Homo sapiens: one gene and its partner. The protein of the gene in region 2 purifies or fractionates together with the protein of the main gene of each other region. This does not show direct contact. Each region holds a gene or a part of one and is shown on either strand. Other genes may lie near its edges.

Evidence for each region. The genes of interacting proteins can lie anywhere in the genome.
Region 1: the proteins of TREM1 (region 2) and SEL1L3 purify together in Homo sapiens (affinity purification with mass spectrometry; one large-scale study listed by BioGRID and IntAct). This does not show direct contact.

What each region holds. Positions count from the first base shown.
Region 1 is NC_000004.12:25,751,489-25,754,988, reverse strand, and holds part of SEL1L3 (protein sel-1 homolog 3), read left to right. Parts: intron 1-3,500.
Region 2 is NC_000006.12:41,273,105-41,276,682, reverse strand, and holds the end of TREM1 (triggering receptor expressed on myeloid cells 1 isoform 1 precursor), read left to right. Parts: intron 1-452; coding exon 453-558; 3' UTR 559-3,078; downstream 3,079-3,578.

The DNA.
Region 1 (3,500 bases), on a different chromosome or scaffold from region 2:
CCATTGCCTCTCACATAGGAAATATTTTGAAACATATTTTTTAGTACCTTGAAATGAAATTCATGATAATTAACCCATCTACACACATTTTTAAAAATCAATATAGGGCCCTAACAGCAATATAAAGGGGAAATAAAAAGAAACTAATTGTAATAAAATAATATTGATTTCAATAAGTACATTCTAGCCCAGTGCTTATAAATTTTAATGTGCATATGAATCATCCAGCATTCTTATTAAATGCAGATTCTAGTTCAGTAGATTTTGGTTCAGTAGGTAAGCCCTGAGATTTGGCATTTCTAGCAAGCTCCTAGATGATGCCCACACTGCTGTTTAGTAAGAGCATACTTTGAGTAGTAAGGGCCGAAAAGTATAAAAAAAAAGAAAAAGAAAAAAACTCCACACATTTCCAAAATGTGCCCCGACAGTGGTACCTGCCAGCCCTGTTAGAACTAATGTTAAGAGTTGAAATATGGGACGGGTATGGTGGTTCACTCCTGTAATCCCAGCTACTTGGGAAGCCAAGGCATGAGAATCGCTTGAACCCCGGAGACGGAGGTTGCAGTGAGCTGAAATTGCACCACCACGCTCCAGCCTGGGCAACAGAGTGAGACCCTGTGTCAAAAAAAAAAAAAAAGTTGTCAATAATTTTTATATTTATTTATTTATTTATTTTATATATTTTTGAGATTGACTTTCGCTCTTGTTGCCCAGGCTGGAGTGCAATGGTGCAATCTCAGCTCGCCACAACCTCCACCTCCTGGGTTCAAGTGATTCTTCTGCCTCAGCCTCCCGAGTAGCTGGGAATACAGGCATGCGCCACCACGCCTGGCTAATTTTGTGTTTTTAGTAGAGACAGGGTTTCTCTGTGTTGGTCAGGCTGGTCTCGAACTCCTGACCTCAGGTGATCCACCCACCTCAGCCTCCCAAAGTGCTGGGATTACAGGTGTGAGCCACTGCAACTGACCTTATTTATTTATTTATTTATTTATTTATTTATTTATGTTGAGACGGAGTCTCACTGTCGCCCAGGCTGGAGTACAGTGGTACAATCTCAGCTCACTGCAACCTCCATCTCTCGGATTCAAGTGATTCTCCTGCCTCAGCCTCCTGAGTAGCTGGAATTACAGGTGCACGCCACCACCCCCAGCTGATTTTTGTACTTTTAGTAGAGATGGGCTTTCGCCATGTTGGCCAGGCTGGTCTTGAACTCCTGACCTCAAGGGATCTACCTGCCTTGGACTCCCAAAGTGCTGGGACTACAGGCATAAGCCACTGTGCCTGGCCTATCAATAATTTTTAAGTAGGAAGTTACTCCAGCAGTACAGTGAAGCTGATGGGATGATGGGGCAGGGAAATCGAGGCATGGAGGAGGTGAGGAGAAGCTGCTGCAAAGGCGATGCTGCTCAGAGACCAAGTTTCTACCATTTGGTGTCTCCCCAGTGAGCTGGTGCACAAGGTCCTGAGACCTGCCCCACAGCTGGGGGAAGACAGGGATGGGTGCATGTAGCAGCCATGGCGTTGTGAAACAAACTTAATAATGAACTCTGGGTGCTGACTGACTGTAAAAAAGAGGAAATGTATTTGAGAGTTAGGAGCCTCCCGTCAGCAGCTTTGGGTGAGGATTGTTGCTATAAGTTAGAGAGCTTTGTCATTTTGTGATTTGCATTTTTTCCAGTCAGTTGTATTTAAAAATTAATGATTTATAGTCAAGACTTGCAGTTGAGCTGTCCATCCATTTTGCGTTCAGCTCCAACTACCTTCATTTTCCTCCTGAGTTTATATGCTCTGTGATATATAGTTGACACATCATGGCATTTGCCACATTAAATTGTCCTGCATTCAGAAGGCTAGCCGCGCAGGACGGTGGTTAACAGCATCGGTGTGGGAGGCACACTGCTAAGATTCTGGCCCTGCCAGTAGCTAGCTATGTGACCTTGGGCAAAGGAAGGAGCCTATCTGTGCCTCAGTTCCCTCTTCCGTAAATAGCAGAAATAGTAGTACATCCACTGCCTGTTGTAGTTGAGATAACCAAATGAGGTAACACAATGTAAAGTGTTTAAAACTCCACAAATGGGCTGGGCGCAGTGGCTCACGCCTAGCACTTTGGGAGGCCAAGGCAGGCAGATCACCTAAGATCAGGAGTTTTAGACCAATCTGACCAACATGGTGAAACCCCATCTCTACTAAAAATACAAAAATTAGCGGGGCATGGTGGTGCATGCCTGTAATTCCAGCTGCTTGGGAGGCTGAGGCAGGAGAATCACCTGAAGCTGGGAGGCAGAGGCTGCAGAGAGCCCAGATTGCTCCATTGCACTCCTGCCTGGGCAACAAGAGTGAAACTCTGTCTCAAAAACAAAACAAAACCACAAATGTTAGCTGGTAGTTCTCAAGGAGTATGTCCTCTGGGGCACTGGACCTGTAATTAAAGCATGCTGACACTAGGTAATACCCACACATAAATAGCTTGATTTACCTCAGAAACAGACATAATGACCAAAGCCTAGTATGTTTTTCTTTGCTGTTAGGACTCTTTCTAAAACATTCAACTTTTTTTTTTTTTTTTTTTTCGGAGATGGAGTCTCACCCTATTGCCCAGGCTGGAGTGCAGTGGCGCTATCTCGGCTCACTGCAACCACCGCCTCCGGGGTTCATGCCATTCTCCTGCCTCAGCCTCCTGAGTAGCTGGGACTACAGGCACCTGCCACCACACCAAGCTAATTTTTGTATTTTTAGTAGAGACTGGGTTTCACCATGTTGGCTGTGCTGGTCTTGAACTCCTGACCTCAAGTGATCCGCCCGACTCAGCCTCCCAAAGTATTGGGATTACAGGCGTTAGCCACCGCACCTTGCCCATTCAACTATTTTTTTTTTTTTTTTGAGATGGAGTCTTACTCTGTCGCCCAAGCTGGAGTGCAGTAGCATGATCTCGGCTCACTGCAACCTCCGCCTCCCGGGTTCAAGCGATTCTCCTGCCTCAGCCTCCTGAGTAGCTGAGATTACAGATGCACGCCACCACACCCAGCTAAATTTTGTATTTTTAGTAGAGACAGGGTTTCACCATGTTGGTTAGGCTGGTCTCCAATTCATGTCCTCGTGATCTGCCTGCCTTGGCCTCCCAAAGTGCTGGGATTACAGGCGTGAGCCACCGTGCCCAGCCCATTCAACTATTTTTTAAAGCATTTCAACAAAAACATTGACTGATCAATAAAAAATACCAAGATAGCTCAATTGATACTTTCAATAGATTAGTCAATGTCTTGATCTTCATCATATATACTTATATATATAAAGAATATATACTTATATATAAAGAACATATATTTATTTATATATATAAAGAATACATATAAATATATGTATTCTTTCCTTCAAGGGAACTTGTGTTTGACTCCTGGCTCGCATTCCACCAGGCAGCTCAGTCTTTCTTGCTGCTTATACCTCCCACGGTGGTGGAAAGGTCCCTGGGTCTGGGTGGTCCTAGGGTCACTCAGATAGTC
Region 2 (3,578 bases):
AACCTTAGAATCATTTCGCCAAAATCTATAAAATTCATGATGAGATTTTCACTACGGGTGGATTCTTCTCGGTTTATAGGTGAGGAAACCGAGCTAAAGAGGTGAGATGACCATCCCAGTAGGCAGGGTACGGTACTGAGAATAGAGAGCGGGTTTCCTGGCCAGAGTCCTCTCTCCCTACCACATCACAGGGAGGAGGATGGGCTGATCAGCCCGACTGTCTCCCTCCAGTGCCTCTCCTGGACAGGGACCTATACTCTCCACTGAATTGTTTCTAATCAGTAGTTTTTGGCAATGAGACAGACTGAAAAGCACAGGGTCAGGCAGTGCGGGAAAGGTGGAGCAAGGATCTAAGCAGAGGAGAGTGGGACATGAAGGCATTTTCTAGAGGGAACATGTGCGTGTGGGAGAGACTTTGCCAGCAGTAGCGTTCAGCCTCTTGTCTCCCGCAGGGTTCCGGTGTTCAACATTGTCATTCTCCTGGCTGGTGGATTCCTGAGTAAGAGCCTGGTCTTCTCTGTCCTGTTTGCTGTCACGCTGAGGTCATTTGTACCCTAGGCCCACGAACCCACGAGAATGTCCTCTGACTTCCAGCCACATCCATCTGGCAGTTGTGCCAAGGGAGGAGGGAGGAGGTAAAAGGCAGGGAGTTAATAACATGAATTAAATCTGTAATCACCGGCTATTTCTAAAGTCAGCGTCTCACCTTCCTGCCCACTGCCCTCGTTCCTCTAATAATCTTGGGTGGGCATTTGTGCCTCAGAAAAGAAGTTACAGCCCCAAACATGCTTGGTCCTTCATTCCACCAGCCACTTGGGGTTGGCATGAAATACAGACAGCTCAATGCTTTTCACCGTAATTCTCTTGTGGGGGCTGTGACATGCAGAAGGCACACCTGATACTTCTCCTGCTCAGTTTTGCCCTGGACCATACAATTTTGGCCTGACCTGGACAGAGCTCCCACTACAGAAGCATCCTGCTCGCCCCATGCTGGGACTTCCTCTTTCTAGCATCAGACACTTGGGTTTCATGCTTATGTGTGGTTCTTTCCAACACTCCCAGAAAAGGGTGTTGAAGATTGTGGAACCTGGAGAAATAAGACATCGTGGTGAGAAAGTGCATCCTTCTCAGAGAAAAGAGTTAAACTGAGTATCTTCTTCTGGGGAAATACTGGCAGGCCGAGATGGGATCCATAGGAGAGCAACAACAGACCATGTCAGACATCCTGTGTGCATTTATCGCTGGATCCTGAAAATAGCCCCGTGAAGGCAGAAATGTATGTGACTAGAACGAGGCCACATGAATAAGCCACTGCCCACTGGCAGGAGTGAAAACTGAAGCGCTCCTTACCTGAAGGACCCCAAAACCATATAGAATAGAATAACCAGGAGTTCCGCCTGTGTCTAAATGCCTCTTTTCCTGTATCACACAAGGGTCAGGGATGGTGGAGTAAAAGCTCTCCCCCTGGGAGGCTTCTGGAGGCTGTCCCCATGTGCTTGCCTAGTTCCCCACTCTGCCCTCCTCCTCTTCTCTCAGTCTGCTCCTGGAACACCTGCCTCAGTTTCCATGCTCTCTCCAGTGCCCTCCCCGGTGAAGCAGGTAGGTGTTCAGGCCACCACAGAGACAATCTCTGTGGGAGATTGTCTTGCAATCTCCCACAGATTTCAATCAGGATTTTGTTATTTCCTACTTTGAGCTTTAAAGGGAAATGGGCCTCATGGGTGGGGAAAGGATGGTGGGTCCTTCCAGCCCAATTTAGTGATGCCCAGGGCAGATATTATCCTCAGTTCCCAAGAGCAATCATACTTTTCCACACATACCGTGTGTCTCATGTTAGGTAAATGTATTTTTACAATGAGCACCACTTCTGTGGAAAAAGTTCCCTGCACGGGGAGGTCCAGCTTCCAGACTGCTCCATCGCATAAGGACTTCCCCATTCCCCTAAATGCTGCTCTGTCAGAACCTGCCCAGGTAATGGTAATGACCCTAGAGAGATGATTTCTGAACCGCAATTTTGAGCCCATTAGAAGGTGTGTGGTGGGCATTTATTTCATCCTGATGCTCTGGTGAGAATCTTTGCAGACGCACTAGATCCAGAAGCTGTTAATCTTGGTGCATTTATTTTCCTACCTAAAAGAACCAAGCAGCTCAGAGGCAGTGACTGTACAGGATGCAGTGTTTATAATAATGCTGAGCTTGCTGGTCTGGAACCCCACACTTTAGCAATCCCAGCATTGTTCCTGTTTATGAAGTTGACAAAGTGACCAGGGCAAGGGGGTATTATCATTAAATACACTCTAGGAGAGGCAGAACACATGAGGGCAATGTTTTTCAGAGGTCTTTAGGCCACCGCATCAGATTCTCCTGGAGCATAAAGCAAATGCTTTATGAGTCCAGGGCCCCTGCAGACCTACTGTATACTAGTATACAGCTCCCTCTTAGTGGATCTCAAGCTTGTTTCCAAAAAGTCATTACACTCCTTACCAAAGCCCATGACACATTCATACAGATTCATCCAGACATAACCCACTGCATGGTCCAGTGCATGCTTGTGTGCTTAACTTATTATAGATCAAGTGTTATTTAAGTCCAACATATTAAACGTGACTGAAATATTATATGCACTAAATCGGAAGACAAATGGCCGTGCTGGATACTCTCCCATTTGCACTTACAGGCCACGCCATGCTCCATCCTCCCCATCCTGCCTGGGAACCTGACCAATGTGGCTAAACCAGCAGGCTCCCTGGCTGCCAGCTTCTGGCTGGTTGAGCCAATGGGAAGCATGAGAGGAGAGCCGAGGGTGGGGAGACAGTCAGATCAGGGTTTCTGTCCTCAGGGCTCCCTCCCTGGCAGGTGGTGGCAGGAGTGGCTGCATTCCCCTCTGAAGGCTCCTTCAAGCCTCTCAGCAAACAGCTCCCATCTCCAAGTCCAGCCACCTGTTCCATCCTCTCCTCTGTAGGCCCAGCAGTGGGAATGACCCACCACTATTGCCAGCCTCAGCATACTGAAGCACCCCTTACTGGATTCCCTAAATTCTATGCACATGTTTATTAAATGCTCCTCAATTACCCAGTTTCAATGAGCCAGCGGTGTCTTGCTGTTATCTTGACTGATACAATAGTGTTGTGTGGCTAACGACACAGGTCTTGGAGGAAAACCATGTATGGGTTTGAATCTAGCTCTGCATCCTTGCAGGGTGTCTGATCCTGGGTGACTCAGTTAACCTTCTGGGCTTCAATATTCCTCCTTGCCTTAATGGGCATGATAGTGCCTAACCATGCCAGTGATGATTTTGGATGCTAACAACAGAATCCAACTCTGGCTATCTAAAACAGCAAGGGAATTCTAGGGGGATATCAGTAACTCAGAGTTGATGAGAGGCTGGGGGATTGGGTTTAGAAAATGGGCAGAAGCCAAGAGAGAATGGACAGCAGAGGCCACATGAGACAGTCTGGACATGTTGCCATCAATGCCACTGCCCTGGATACTGGAGGCCACCATGCTATTCCTAGACTCTGAATCCTTAAATTGCCTCTGAGTAAGTAATCTGCAACTGGCCCTGCATTTGAGCCTCA